Linked DNA regions of Homo sapiens: region 2 is linked to region 1. Evidence: fine-mapped expression QTL. Tissue or cell type: whole blood. Region 1 holds a variant in brackets; the other region holds the start of a gene. All regions are shown on one strand. Distances are between the middles of the regions.

Region 1 (8,000 bases):
TGCACTGTGACAGGACAGCACTGAGTTCAATGTGCAATCCCCAAATTGCTGCACTCTCCCTCCCCCAAGTACACAGATTATTTCCTTGCCACACACAGCTGCTGCCAGGGGAGGGGCGGAGGGTGGTGCTGGTGATTCAAGACTGCCTTTCCTACCCTCTTCAGTGCCTCTTTCAGTGATATGAAGTTAAAACCAGGTACTGTGATTACTCACCTGATTTTTGGTTCTTATGAAGGTGCTTTATTGTGTGCAAATTTTTGGGAGGTGGGTTGTACAATTGGTGGAGCCTTCTATTTTGCCATCTTACTCTGGTTTGTAATTTTATGTCTTTGAAAAGAAGCTGAGATAAGAAAGCAAGTATGTATTTATAGTTTGTTATATTAACTTTCTTACTTATCATTTCTGGTTATCTTGGTGTGTTTTTGTGGATTTGAGTTACCATCTGGTGTCACTTCCTTACTCTAATATAGTTTTACTCCCATCTGACTCCTTTATGTTCTTATTATCAAATATATTTCTGGCTGGGTGCAGTGGCTCACGCCTGTAATCCCAACACTGTGGAAGGCCGAGGCAGGAGGATCACTTGAGCTCAGGAGTTCCAGGCTGCAGTGAGCTATGGTCACACCAGTGCCCTTCAGCCTGGGTGACAGGTGGAGACCCTGTCTCTAAAAAAATAAAAACTAAGGCTGGGCGCAGTGGCTCACGCCTGTAATCCCAGCAGTTTGAGAGGCCAAGGCGGGCGGATCACAAGGTCAAGAGATCGAGACCATCCTGGCCAACATGATGAAACCCTGTCTCTACTAAAAATACAAAAATTAGCTGGGCGTGGTGGCACGCACCTGTAATCCCAGCTACTCGAGAGGCTGAGGCAGGAGAATCAGGAGGCAGAGGTTGCAGTGAGCTGAGATCGTGCCAATGCACTCCAGCCTGGCGACAGAGTGAGATTCCGTCTCCAAAAAAAAAAAAAGTAAATAAATGAACATTACATTTCTATATGCTATAGACCTGACAGTGCAACTGTATACATGTTTTATACAGTTGCTTTTTAAAATCAGTTAACAGAAGAAATATACAGTTTGTGTTTTGTAATTATCTTTACAGATTGGGATTACTATTTGGAGTTAGTTACTTTTGGTCTGAAGAGCTATCCTTTGTATTTCTTGTAAGACAGGTCTGCTGGCAGTAAATTCTCTCAGCTTCTGTTTATTTGGGAATGTCTTTATTTTGATTTCTTTTCTTTCTTTTTTTTTTTTTTTTGAGACGGAGCCTCACTCTGTCACCCAGGCTGGAGTGCAGTGGCATGATCTCAGCTCACTGCAACCTCTGCCTCCTGGGTTCAAGAGATTCTCCTGACTCAGGCTCTTGAGTAGCTGGGATTACAGGCACGCATCACCATGCCCGGCAAAGTTTTGTATTTTTAGTAGAAACAGGGTTTCACCACGTTGGCCAGGCTGGTCTCGAACTCCTGACCTCAGGTGATCCACCCGCCTTGGCCTCCCAAAGTGCTGGGATTACAGGCATGAGCCACCACACCTACCCTAGTTTAACCTGTTTTTATTCCCAGTTCTTGGCGTTCATTTTTTTAGTACTGTCTTCAACATGTATAACTTACAGTTCATGTATTTTAGAAGTATACAAACATAACTCTGAATGCTAAATTTTGGTGTGAAGAAGATTCACACTTGAGATTACTATAAGTTATTTTAATGAAAATATTGTATTACGTTTTCTGATTTTAAGAGCAATAAGTACTTTTTGTAAGAAGAGGGAAAAAAAAAAAACCACTAGACTCCTGATATAAAAGTCAGTATCCCCCTGCAATCCCATCTCCCAGATATAAACACTATCAGGGTAATATGACCTTCTATAAACTTTTTGTTGTAGCTCCGGCAGGAGCCTGTGGTGGTGTTCTGGCACCTCCTGCAGGTACAGCAGCAAGTTCCAAGGCTGTCCTCTTCACTGTAGGGTCTCCTCCACACAGTGCGGCAGCCCCCACTTGTACCCACATGTTCCTTCGAACAAGAACAACCTCAGGTAAGGAGCATTTGTTATATTACAGTCTTTGGCTAGTATTTGGAATGTAGTGTTTTGACAAATGACTCAGTGTTGTAACTTGGACAAGTCACTTAATTCTCTGGGCTTCAGTTTCTTTACCAGTGAAATGGAGATTACTATTTTCTTTATCTTAATGGGTTATAAGAAGTAAATGAGGCATCATTTGTGGGGAAAAAAACTTTGTAAAGTGCTATATTATATATTAAAATATAAATATATGTTGTATATGTTTTTACAAAATGACATATAGTATAAATATGACTTCTTCGTGAAGAAGCAAATCGTATATGGTTCTTCTCAGCTTATATATTAAAGGGTTACTTTAGTAGATCCAATAAATTATTTGAAAATTATAGGTTTGGTTTTTTTTTGGTTTTTTTTTTTAAAGAAACTTGTTTTGGCTAGGTGAGGTGGCTTATGCCTGTAATCCCAGCACTTACTTTGGGAGGCTGAGGCAGGCAGATCACTTGAGGCCAGGAACTCGAGACCAGCGTGGCCAACATGGTGAAAACCTGTCTTTACTAAAAATACAAAAATTTAGGCAGGTGTGGTGGCAGGTACCTGTAATCCCAGCTACTCAGGAGGCTGAGGCAGGAGAATCACTTGAACCTGGGAAGTGGAGGTTGCAGTGAGCCGAGATTGCGCCATTGCACTCCAGCCTGGGTAACGAGCGAAACTCTGTTTCAGAAAAGAAAGAAACTTGTTTTATTTATTTATTTTTAATTTTTTGTACTTTGGGTCTCAATCTTTGCACTTAATCCTATATACAGTTAGAAGGCTAATAGATTTATCATTTATAATCTGTAAATAGGTTAATACCAAAACTTAAGAAAGTATTTAGATTGGACTTGAAATCAATAATTTGATGTCTTATCTGTTGTATCATGAGTCAAGTTATCTTATTCTAAATAAGTTGCTGATCAAGAGACCAGGTTAATAAGCAAAGGATAGAAATAGATAAGAGAAAATAGATCTAAAATTATGTTTTTAAGACGATTAAAAACCTTGAATAATAAGAAAATACCATTTTACGAAAGTAACATTTTATATCTGTTAACTATACCTATATCTTAAAAAGTACAATGCCCAAGACTGGGCATGGTGGTTCATGCCTGTAATCCCAGCACTTTGGGAGGCCGAGGCAGGAGGATCACTTGAGGTCAGGAGTTTGAGACCAGCCTGGGCAACATGGTGAAACCCCATCTCTACAAAAAAAATACAGAAATTAGCCAGACATGGTGGCATACGCCTATAGTCCCAGCTACTTGTGAGGCTGAGGTGAAAGAATTACCTGAGCCCAGAAAATCAAGGCTGCAGTGAGCTGTGATCACGCCACTGCAATTCAGCCTGCGCAACAGCAAGA[C/A]CCTGACTCAAAAAAAAAAAAAAAAAAAAAAAAAAAAAAGTATCATGTCCAGTGTTATTGAGGTTTAGTAGGATCTATGTGCTTACTCAGGGCTGCGTTAGAGAGTACTATAACAGTTCTTAGGAAGAGCTGTAAAAATATTTATTGATCTATGCTAATTCCATTCCTTCTTATACCACTTCAGAGTATTTATCACAAAGAAATTATTCAAAAGAAGGAACAACTGTCTGCATTTCATTACAGTGCTATTTGTAATATGAATAAAATCAGAAATAGTATAAATGACTCCAGATAAACATTATATAATATATATAAATTTAATGAATCAGTGCATCCATTGAGTTTTATAATTATGAGGCCCTGTGGAGCAGCAAGGAGAAATGAATATGATCTAAATTTGTTTAAAACAGAGTATAAAAAAACTAGCTCTGATGATGTCTAATATAAAATATATAGACAAGGAATAACAATGAACATGGATAAGTAAAAACTATTAATATCCTCAAATAGTACATAGGGGGTCAGTGAGTTTCTTTTAACGAAACTTTCCTTTGTCACCTCAGCAGGTTTGTTTAGTAAATAAGAGTAGGAGTGGGTGTGAAAGCCCTAACTCTGGACACTGCCATGTATCCTCTGTTTCCTTGTAGTGGGGCCCAGCAACTCCGGGGGCTCTCTTTGTGCCATGAGTGGCCGCGTGTGCGTGGGGTCCCCGCCTGGCCCAGGCTTCGGCTCTTCCCCTCCAGGAGCAGAGGCAGCTCCCAGCCTGAGATACGTGCCTTACGGTGCTTCACCCCCCAGCCTAGAGGGGCTCATCACCTTTGAAGCCCCTGAACTGCCGGAGGAGACGCTGATGGAGGTAGAAAAGAGACTATAGTGGTGTGAATGTAATGTTGATTTGATATGAGAACATTCTAGTGATGACAAGAACAAAATACATTAAATAGTTAGGAAGTTATGTTCTCTTTAACGTGCCTTTTCTGTTTGAAAAGTATTGCTGATGTCTTTTTAAATTAACATTGACAGTGACACTCATCCATAATAAGCTTTGGTTTATAGGAAGAAACACATAGATTCTGTGTTTTTCTTTCTTTCTTTTTTTTTGAGACAGAGTCTTGCTCTGTCACCCAGGCTGGAGTGCAGTGGTGCAATCTCGGCTCACTCCCACCTCTGCCTCCTGGGTTCAAGCAATTCTCCTGCCTCAGCCCCCACGAGTAGCTGGGATTACAGGCACACGCCACCATGCCCGGCTAATTTTTGTATTTTTAGTAGAGACGGGGTTTCACCATGTTGGCCAGGCGGGTCTCGAACTCCTGACCTTGTGATCTGCCCACCTCTGCCTCCCAAAGTGCTAGGATTACAGGCGTGAGCATTCTAGTACATTCTATTGCATGTTCCAGTGTATTGAAACATACAGTGCAATATGCTGTCACAGAGCAGAGAGACTTTTAGAAGTCAATTGGCTTATTCTCCTGTCACTAGGAAAATGATTCTCATCTTTATTTAACCATAAAAGAGTGGGAAACTTTTAGGCTTGAGATTTCAGAATGCATTTATAACTAAAAACAAATCTCAAAACAACAATCTAGAATACCCATTTATTTATTTATTTATTTGTTTGTTTGTTTGTTTGTTTATTTGAGACAGAGTCTTGCTCTGTCACCCAGGTTGGAATGCAGTGGTGCGATCTCAGCTCACTCTAACTTCCACCTCCTGGGTTCAAGCCACTCTCCTGCCTCAGCTTCCTGAGGAGCTGGGACTACAGGCACATGCCACCACGCCCAGCTAATTTTTGTATTTTTAGTAGAGACGGGATTTCGCCATGTTGGCCAGGCTGGTCTCAAACTCCTGACCTCAGGTGATCCACCCGCCTTGGCCTCCCAAAGTGCTTGGATTACAGGCATGAGCCACCATGCCCGGCCTAGAATGCCCATTTTTAAATGACAGCCCTCTGAATGCTGTTATGTCTACCCACACTCCCCTCTTTAACTAACTGAAAAGATCACAGAAAGTTAGAGCTTTGGTATTAGTAATCACTGTTAACTGAAAAACGACCAGAAATTAAATAAAGCAACTCTGAAATTATAAGAAGTCAGCAGAATTCAATACAGTATCAAGAAGTGTGATTTAGCACCTATAGTATCCTTGTAATCTTTGTGTCTACCTTGTCACGTTTTTGTCTCATGTATATTGATTTAATCGTTCAGCTTTCTTTTCTTTTTCTGGTAAAAGCACAGCGACCCATCCTGAGTTTACTTATGTGGGTACTCTGATACACATACACAAACACATGCATATACCTATATTTGGTTTCATTTGTGTTCATTTTCTTACCAGCTTTCTGAAATTTAAAAATTTCAATCTCCTTTTGTCATTCTGATACTCATAAGTATAGAAAACATGATCAGCGGCCATGGTTTATGTACAGAAATGAGTATGTACGTATTTTTAATCTGAAATTTTCTAAGACAAATTGACTTTGCTGCAGCGGGAACACACAGACACCTTACGCCATCTGAATGTGATGCTGATGTTCACTGAGTGTGTGCTGGACCTGACAGCCATGAGGGGAGGAAACCCTGAGCTGTGCACATCTGCTGTGTCCTTGTACCAGATCCAGGAGAGTGTGGTGGTGGACCAGATCAGTCAGCTGAGCAAAGACTGGGGGTGGGTGCCCCCTTGTCATTCATTTCCAGACTTTTCATGCTTTGTCTAAACTTGTGTCTAAGTTGTAGGTATTGTCATCCACTGAAGATCATATCTCATTATTAAAAGCTAGGAGTCTCAATTATTTCTTTGTACTACATTTCACTATATGAGCCAAGACCTGGAGATTATGCAACCTCAGTGTTGCCTTTCCTTGTAAATTATACTGTTGAAGTTCTTTTGTGTAAATAGATTGTATTGATTTTTATCTGAGTGTATCCGTTATTTTCACAGTACACACATCTTTAACTATGCCTTGTCCCTTGAGAGTTTACTTGTGCATTAAGAAATTAAGGAGGGCTGGTCGCAGTAGCTTATGCCTATATGTAATTCCAGCACTTTGGGAGGATGGGGCAGAAGGATTGCTTGAGCCCATGGGTTCGAGACCAGCCTGGGCAATATGATGAATCCCTGTCTCTACAAAAAATACAAAAATTAGCCGGGCATGGTGGTGCGTCCCTGTGGTCCCAACTATTAATATTCGGGAGGCTGAGGTGGGAGGATCCCTTGAGCCCAGGAAGTAGAGGCTGCAGTAAGCCAAGATCAAGCCACTATACTTCGGCCTGGGGGACAGAGCAAGACTCTGTCAAAAAAAAAAAAAAAAAAAGAAAAGAAAGAAGAAAAGAAATCAAAGAGGATGCTATTCCTTTATAGAAAGGCAATTTTAATGGTGACCTGTTGTGTAGAGTGCCACATCTTACATTAGTTCACAAGATAACCCTCTGCTACTGTCTTTTGGGTGCAGGCGGGTGGAGCAGCTGGTGTTGTACATGAAAGCAGCACAGCTGCTTGCGGCTTCTCTGCATCTTGCCAAAGCCCAGATCAAGTCCGGGAAACTGAGCCCATCCACAGCTGTGAAACAAGGTATGGGAGAAGGCAGCGTGTAACTCCAGGGGTCAGTCCTTAAGTTGCTCTTTCCCATCACACTGTGAGAGAGTGTCTGATGAGTACTCACTGTTGTTTTTATTTTTCAGTATTCTTAAAGGGAAAAGATGCTGGGTTGTTAGCTTTTTGCAGTTCAATTGATAGAAGTCTGAAGTGCATTATTCTCAATCTTTTCATATTGAAAGAGATAACATGAAAAAATCCTATTTCTGGTCCTTTTTTTGAATGATCACATAGTGACACCTTCCCTATATATCAGCAGGAAAGATACATATAACTGTGTCTTTATTTCTGGAGGAAAATTAAAATTAGTTCCCATCTCAATTTTTTTTCAGTTGTCAAGAATCTGAACGAACGATATAAATTCTGCATCACCATGTGCAAGAAACTTACAGAAAAGCTGAATCGATTCTTCTCTGACAAACAGAGGTTTATTGATGAAATCAACAGTGTGACTGCAGAGAAACTCATCTATAATTGTGCTGTAGAAATGGTAACCCTTTCTAAGGTTTAATATTGTATAGTACTACTTATCTTTAAGTGTCTTTTTAATTGAATATCTATATGACAGCTATCCTTTTAAAAGATAATGTCTCAAGTCCCAAGTATTGTGGATTGCCTTCTACTAAAGAAGTAATTGGATTTAAGCAACTGTTAATGTCATTTACTGGATGTATTTTAAGTAATTACAAATCCGTTTACCACATTTGCTATAAGTTTATTACAGCTCTTATTAAACATTGCTGGCATTAGGCATGATCTAATCTTTTTTTTTTCTTTTTTTTTTTTTCTTGAGACGGAGTTACTCTGTCGCCCAGGCTGGAGTACAGTGGCACGATCTCAGCTCACTGCAACCTCTGCTTCCCAGATTCAAGTGATTCTCCTGCCTCAGCTTCCTGAGTAGCTGGGATTACAGGCACTTGCCACCATGCCCAGCTAATTTTTGTATTTTTAGTAGAGATGGGGTTTTGCCATGTTGGCCAGGGTGGTTTCC
Region 2 (8,122 bases), 84 kb before region 1:
CGGCCTCTCAAAGTGCTGGGATTGCAGGCGTGAGCCACCGCGCCTGGCCAAATTTTATACTGATTTTTGCACAATATAAAAAGATGCTCCCTGCTGTTTTTGTTTGTTTGTTTGTTTTTTGCATTGCATCAAAATATTCCTAGGCTGAACTTTGTTACTGATATCATTTCAGAAAATTTACATTTATTATTCAGAAGATTTGTCATTATGGTATTTTTTAAAACTTTAAAAAACATACTAAAAATTTGTTATTGCTTCCTTTTTTGTGCTTATTTTTCGTATTTTATTGTAAATTCTTGCATTTATAAATATCAAAGCACTGCACCCTAACTATTCACAAGAATTTCAAAGCATCAGCAATGTCATCAAAGTAGAAACAATAGAACCAAAATAGAAGGAATAGCAATGATGTAATTTGAAGATAATAATAAACTGGCTATTCTCCTGCATCTTGGAATGCCTCCCTGCCCAGCAGAATATTTCTCACATTTATTTTCACAGGATACCTTTTATCATCAGAACATTTCTATAGCACTGGATGATAAACTAAACAGTTTATATTAGAATTTATATTAGTAATTAATTTTTTTTTAAGACAGTGTCTCATTTGTCACCTAGGCTGGAGTGCAGTGGTGCGATCCCGGTTCACCACAACCTCTGCCTCCCGGGTTCAAGCAACTTTCCTGCCTCAGCCTCCCGAGTAGCTAGGATTACAGGCGAATGTCACCACACCTGGCTAGTGTGTGTGTGTGTGTGTGTGTGTGTGTGTGTGTGTGTGCATGTGTGTGAGATGGATTTTTGCTCCTCTCATCCAAGCTGGAGTGCAATGGTGCAATCTTGGTTCACTGCAACCTCCGCCTCCTAGGTTCAAGTGATTCTCCTGCCTTAGCCTCCCGAGTAGCTGGGATTACAGGCACACACCACCACGCTCGGCTACTTTTTGTACTTTTAGTAGAGATGGGGTTTCACCATGTTGGCCAGGCTGGTCTGGAACTCCTGACCTCAGGTGATCCACCCACCTCAGTCTCCCAAAGTGCTGGGATTATAGGCGTGAGCCCCTGTGCCTGGCCTATATTAGTAATTAATTTTACCTCTCATTGCAGTTACTGTTTTTCTATTTACTAACTGGTATTGAAACATTTCAACAGTTAAGCATGTTTAGACACACATGCATATGCACACACAGGACAAATTAAGAACAATGAACATGAATCAAATTGGCAATTTCCAGTGATTTTAGAGGTAAACTAGAAATCTGCCCTGGCCTCCATTCTCAAATGAAGCCTAAATTTGACCTAGGGTGAACACTTCCTGGGGTGCCTATGTGGCCCCTGCTTCTGGGGACTCAGAACACCCACAGGCTTGTGTTGGGGGCAGCCATAGTTACATGATCCTGCCTTCCTCAGTCCCATTCCTGGCTTCCGATGATTGTTCAGGGCCCAGCACCCAGCTGAAGTTAGGTTGATCAGAATCCCCTCCTTAAGAATTTGGTGGCTGGGCCCAGTGGCTCACGCCTGTAATCTTAGCACTTTGGGAGGCCGAGGCAGGCGGGTTACCTAAGGTCAGGGGTTCAAGATCAGCCTGGCCAACATGGTGAAACCCCGCCTCTACTAAAAAAGCAAAAAAAATTTTAGCTAGGTGCAGTGGCACGCAACTGTAATCCCAGCTACTTGGGAGGCTGAGGCAGGAGAATCGCTTGAACCTGGAAGGCGGAGGTTGCGGTGAGCCGAGATCGTAACACTGTACTCCACCCTGGGCGACAGAGCAAGACTTCGTCTCAAAAAAAAAAAAAATTTGGTTTGGAGACTGGGGCTGCCATTGCCACCATGTAGGAGATCTCAGGCAAGAGAACAAAGCAGGGGCACAGACGGAAGGCAGTTCTCTTTGAGATCCTGGTTCTGCGGGTAGTTTGCTTTTGAAGCCCAACTTTGAACTCTGAGAAGCACACCTGTATCTTTATCTACATTCTTTATTTTTCACTTTATCACATTTGACGTTTGCTATTTGCTACCAACATAGTCCTAACTAAACATTTTTTAGCAAAGCACCCCCTGCCTCCTGCCCCCACTTCTTTTCTGACTCTTGAGGTCAGAAATCCTGCACATTTTGCTTTTCAAATGGATATGTCCATGGGGCCCATGTTTGGCCTGTGAATACAGGACACGCATGTCCAAACGAAGGGCCTATTGGAGGTTTCTGAAAAATACCTTCATGTGGCCGGGCGCAGTGGCTCACGCCTGTAATCCCAGCACTTTGGTAGGCCGAGGTGGGCGGATCACGAGGTCAGGAGATGGAGACTGTCCTGGCTAACACGGTGAAACCCCGTCTCTACTAAAAACATACAAAAAATTAACCGGGCGTGGTGGCGGGTGCCTGTAGTCCCAGTTACTCCGGAGGCTGAGGCAGGAGAATGGCGTGAACCCGGGAGGCAGAGCTTGCAGTGAGCTGAGATCGTGCCACTGCACTCCAGTCTGGGCGACAGAGCAAGACTCCGTCTCAAAACAAACAAACAAACAAACAAAAAACCTTCATGTGGCTAGGTGAGGTGGCTCACACCTATAATCCCAGCACTTTGGGAGGCCGAAGTGGGCGGATCGCTTGAAGTTGGGAGTTTTGAGACCAGCCTAGCCAACATGGTGAAACCCCACCTCTACTAAAAAAAAAAAAATTAGCCGGGCATGGTGGTGCAGGTCTGCAATCCCAGATACTTGGGAGGCTGAGGCAGGAGAATCACTTGAACCCAGGAGGCGGAGGCTGCAGTGGGCCGAGATCATGCCATTGCACTCCAGCCTGGGCAACAGAGCAAGACTCTGTCTCAAAACAAAAAACAGGCCGGGCGTGGTGGCTCACGCCTGTAATCCCAGCACTTTGAGAGGCCGAGACAGGCTGATCCCTTGAAGTTGGGAGTTTGAGACCAGCCTGGCCAACATGGTGAAACCCCATCTCTACTAAGATACAAAAATTAGCTGGGCGTGGTGGTGCGTGCCTGTAATTCTAGCTGCTTGGGAGGCTCAGGCAGCAGAATCACTTGCACTTGGGAGGCAGAGGTTGCAGTGAACCAAGATTGTGCTACCGCACTCCAGCCTGGGTGACAGAGTAAGATTCTGTCTCAAAAAAAAAAAAAAAAAAAAAAGTAAACAAAAAAATAGACTGTAGAGAATCTTTCAGTGAGGTAAGGAATCATCTCCATCCATTTTTGGGTGTATGTGCAAACTTGCTTAAGTTGCTGTCAACTTTTGAAGGCTCCAGATTTTCAGTGTCTAACACAACCACCTGGGCCAGATGTAAGTAAGGACAGGATAACGTAAGCGTGCACAGTAGCAGAAGCAGAAACTCAAGGCCCTACGTTTTGAGCGTGTGAGGAAGGAGCGTTCTCTCAGAATCCTGGAGCTGACTCTGTCATGGTTCAGAGATCAGCTTGCAGGGACAGGCAGTGGCAGTCGAGGTGGTGACAGACCCCAAAAGCACATACCCTATACAACCGAACACACACTCAAGTGTGGAGCCTGCGTATTCCATGGTAGTTTCAAGCATATTGTTTATTAAATGGTTTCATAAGACACTTCTTTGCGGGAAACCTGACAATCTGTTCCTTGTCACTTGGACAGCTTTAACAATCAGGTAGAAAAGAAAGCTCCCTTCGGCCATGTGAAGTAAGCCCGAGGTCAAACTAGCCTGACACTAGGAGCTCCCAGGAGAACCTTGAAAACGTGTGCGATTCTGAGTCGGTGTGCAGAAACGATTCTCTGCGAAGAGGGCCCTGAGCTGTCACCAGCTTCTCGCAGTCAAGGGACCCCCAAAAGGTGCAGAATCCCGCCTGTCACCGTCCCTCTAGGGATCCTAAGCGAGTAAACCCCGAGAGGCGTCCGAAGGCTGGCAGTTTGGCAGCGTGAACTCTGGTTTTCCAGAGCGCGGGCAAAGCCTGGAGTAGCAGTTGCTCCTTTGCTCTGGCAGGAATCTGGGGGTCTACCCTGCGCAGATAATCCCGTCCTGCCTGCAGCTGGGGTTCAAGACCCGCTTCTCTGAAGTCCGCCTCCCAGCGGCCTGGAGCCCGGGGCGTGGTCGGCTCGAATCTGCTCCCCAGGCCCAGAACGGAGCCCGCAGCCCGTAACCCGCTGTGGCCGCAGCGGGTCGCGCCCTTCGTCCCCGCCTCAGGAGCGGCCGAGGATCTGCCCAGCTGCGGGCGCCAAGCCCTGGCCGCACTCCTTTCCCCGGCGGAGGGAGCCGGCTGGCGCTGCGGCCTTCAAGGCGCGCGGACGTCGCGGAGGGCAGCCAGTCGCGCGGGAGCGGGTAGCGCGCGCGAGGGCGTTGGGCGCCGCCGCGAGGCGGGGAAGCGCGGGGCCGCGGCGGTGCGGGTTCTAGGGCGGCGGCCGTCGCCGTCGCAGCAGCGCCCCGAGCGGGGAGGGCCGAGGAGGCCCGACGAGCTGGGGATGGAGAGTACCGGGCCCCTCACTGCCTCAGAGCGCGTGTGCGGCTCTGGGCGCGCACAGTGACGGTGACGGCACCCCTGGCCCGGCAGCGCCGAGGCCGCTTCGCCAGACAGCCAGCGGCCGGCGGCAGGCCGGGCCATGAGCGGCAGGGGCCGGGCCGGGCCTCGCTGACCCTGGCTCCGCGCGGCAGCTTCCCCAGTTTCCGCTCCGGTCTCTCGGCATGAGAGTCCGCCCGGGCCCGGGGCTGCGGCTGCCCCAGACCCGCCGCACGCTGGCGCGCTCCGGGCCCGCGGAGCCGCGGTGCTGATACCTGCGCCGCACTGCGCCGCCCGCCCGTCCGCTGTGTGCCCCGGGGGCGCGGCCATGGAGGTGGTGGGTGACTTCGAGTACAGCAAGAGGGATCTCGTGGGACACGGGGCCTTCGCCGTGGTCTTCCGGGGGCGGCACCGCCAGGTGAGCGCCGGCCGGGGCGAGGCCGGGCCCCGGGCGGCAGGCACGGGGCTAGGTGGTTCTGAAACTTGGCGCAGCCGCGAGCCGAGACCCCCGACTCGGCTAGCCGCCCGGGTATGCTATTGTGCGCGCAGCCCGTCTCGCCGTTTGTTTTGGTCCTGTGAGGGTTGTTGTGAGGCCCAAGCCTCTGGCAGCGCTCCGCCTACCGACCGGCTGCTGCTGATCCTCCTGTGTGCCCGGGGCCCACCCCGCGGTCCGCCCGCAGGAGCGTTTGCACCCAGGTTACCCTGGACCCAAAATAGACGGTACTGCACCGTGCAGACTCGAGGGTTGGGCGTGAATGGACCTTTGGTTTTTTTCCCCGTGCCCAGGGCTGGTCACTTTTGAGGTTGATAATTACAGACCCAGCGGAAAATGGGCGGATGTCCCATTAGCCTCAGGCTTTCGCAGCCTGGGAGGTGTCACCTTTCCCAGCACTGGTCCCCTGCACCCCGAAGAGCCCCCGTACCGTTTTCCCCCCCGGAGTCAGATAGACGAGCTCCGGGTGAGAAAGGTGGTTGGACAATTCATTTTCAATCACCTTGAACATGAAATCACCTTTAAGCCTTAAAAAAATTGTTTTAAGCCTTTGCTGTTTCGCAAGTACAGTTACACGAGGTTTTAGAATCTAAAGAATTTGGAAAGGCATATCGGGAGTGGAAATAATCTTAAAGGGTGTGGCAGTTCTGATTGTTGCCCAAGGGGCGTGTTAAAAGTGGGCTGACTTTGTTGCTTATCGGATGAAGTAATGCTACTTTTCTTATTTATTTATTTATTTATTTTTGAGACAGAGTCTCGCTTTGTCGCCGAGGCTGGAGTGCCGTGGCGAGATCTCCGCTCACTGCAACCGCTGCCTCCCGGGCTCAAGCGATTCTCCTGCCTCAGCCTCCTGAGTAGCTGGGATTACAGGTGCCCGCCACCACGCCCGCCTAATTTTTTTTTTTTTGTATTTTTAGTAGAGATGGGGTTTCACCACGTTGGCCAGTGTGGTCTTGAACTCCTGACCTCAGGTGATCCGATCTGCCCGCCTCAGCCTCCCAAAGTGCTGGGATTACAGGTGTGAGCCACGGCTCCCGGCCTACTTTTCATTTATTAGGAAAATAATTTAGAACTCAAGCACGGTGTAATCCTTCCAAGCTAACAAATAACTTTTCAATTAACTGTATCACCTTCCAAGTTTATTTCTACATTTGTCCATAACTTTGAAGTGGTTGTGAACTGTTCTTTTTTCATTTAATGTTAGTTACCATGTGGACTTCATATTTGTTATTTTTAGAAGTTGTGTTGTAGGATCTTGGCATATTGCACTATAATTTATGAAATCACTTTCCAATTATTGAAAATAATTCCATTTTTCCCCAATGCCGTACATTTATTTGCCAAAAACACCTTCGCGCTTGTAAATTTTTTTCTGTTATTTATGTGGAATGGTATCTAGGAGTAACACTGTTTTTCCTTTTCAGAAAACTGATTGGGAGGTAGCTATTAAAAGTATTAATAAAAAGAACTTGTCAAAATCACAAATACTGCTTGGAAAGGAAATTAAAATCTTAAAGGTATGTTACTTTATGTAGTAGTATTCATATAAGGTTAAAACTTAATTTAAATGAATACATGCTGCCATCCTTTTCAATTTTGGTAGTTGGGTCCAAGTTTGAGAATTTTCAACTGTTGCTCTCCTTTTTGCATGCTCACTTTTTTAAAACATTGAGTACTCGGAAGCTATTTTTAAGAACCAAAGCTCAGAGGGATTCTGTGAAGACTGAGTTTAGCTTCTCATCATTTCTCTTTTTCCTAGTGACTGTGTTGTTGTTTGAGAAGAGGGCCAGGCAGACCCATCTTGTACATTGTTTTTACCTCTCCTGTTGTCCCCTTTCATGTTACTACTAAGTTTTTTGGGGGGAGTAGGGGTGCTTGGGGTCTTTCTTTAAATTGAAGAAAGTTATATTCCTTGGAGGTGGCCTTTTTAGATCACTCACAACCAGTGTTATCTAAGTGGGATGGTTTGAGAAGATGGTTGAGTACGTTTGGAAAACCCCATTTACTAAATACTTCTTGGAGAGTCACAAAGCCTATGGCTCATTAAAGAAAGTCTGAAAAATTCTACAATGAAGAAACTTGTTTCAAAGTACTTAACCTGGTGTTTTCCAAACTAATACAAGCGTGGAACCCTCATTTAACACCCGATTTCCTCAAAACTGCTTCCTGTGGAGAGCTCTTTTTTAAGAATTGTAGCTCTTTGAGCTAAAAATCATATTTTCTTTCAGTGAGATAATGTGCTTTTTGTTTGATCAGGCACATTTCTTATTCTTTAATTGAATTTTTATAGTCTTAATATAAGTATAATACTAGAAGTGTATGTGTATACTTTAATTTTATTTACATATTAAAATATAGTAAAGTCATTAGAATACTTACATATTTTTCATTCTCAATTTTCTTAATAGGAACTTCAGCATGAAAATATTGTAGCACTCTATGATGTTCAGGTACCTTATTTTGAAAATTTTTAAAAATTAAAATAAATTTTTTTTAATTTCATACAGATTTAAGTGACTCTTAATAGAAATAAAAATGACCTTAATTCTTGTTGAAAAGATGCATAGCTTGAGTTACATGTTTCTGAATTAAGAAATTGTTTAAAACAGAACAGAGTAATAGGCTGAAAGAATTTGCTGCATGAGTAAGTTTATTAACAATTGATAATACACTATAGGTGTAGCATTGTTTTAGGTGAAGTAGAGGACTGTTGATACCAGATCTAGCATTCTCTGATGAATGTTGAAAGGACAATTAAAAATAGAGCTTTTTTTTTTTTTGATGGAGTCTCACTCTGTCTCTTGGGCTGCAGTGCAGTGGCTTGATCTCGGCTCACTGCAACTGCTACCTCCCGGGTTTAAGCGATTCTCCTGCCTCAGCCTCCCGAGTAGCTAGGACTATAGGTGTGCACCACCATGCCCAGCTAATTTTGTGTGTGTGTGTTTTTCATAGAGATGGAGTTTCACCATGTTGGCCAGGCTTGTCTCGAACTCCTGACCTCAAGTCATCCTCCCACCTTGGCCTCCCAAAGTACTGGGATTACAGGCGTGAGCCACTGCGCCCCGCCTAAATAGAAGTTCTTTTTTTAAAAAAACATTTTTTTTATTTTGTAGAGATAGGGTCCCTCTGTGTTGCTCAGGCTAGTCTTGAACTCCTGGGCTCAA

The links. PIP is the estimated chance that this variant, and not a neighbour inherited with it, causes the effect.
Region 2: it holds the start of ULK2, and the variant in region 1 is fine-mapped to the expression of ULK2 in whole blood (INTERVAL, PIP above 0.99).

The regions. Positions count from the first base shown.
Region 1 is chr17:19,779,971-19,787,970 of GRCh38, reverse strand. ULK2 (unc-51 like autophagy activating kinase 2) reads left to right here. Exons shown (of 27, transcript NM_014683.4): 21 at 1,885-2,034; 22 at 4,066-4,274; 23 at 5,904-6,082; 24 at 6,867-6,985; 25 at 7,342-7,499. Among named protein-coding and RNA genes, the nearest start is that of ALDH3A1, 36 kb to the right of the region's middle. The variant C/A (reference allele first, on the strand shown) is at 3,419.
Region 2 is chr17:19,864,089-19,872,210 of GRCh38, reverse strand. It overlaps ULK2 (unc-51 like autophagy activating kinase 2), which reads left to right and starts at 4,275. Exons shown (of 27, transcript NM_014683.4): 1 at 4,275-4,883; 2 at 6,383-6,475; 3 at 7,367-7,408. The coding sequence starts at 4,794. RefSeq lists silencers at 4,222-4,811, 4,892-5,071 and an enhancer at 4,650-5,158.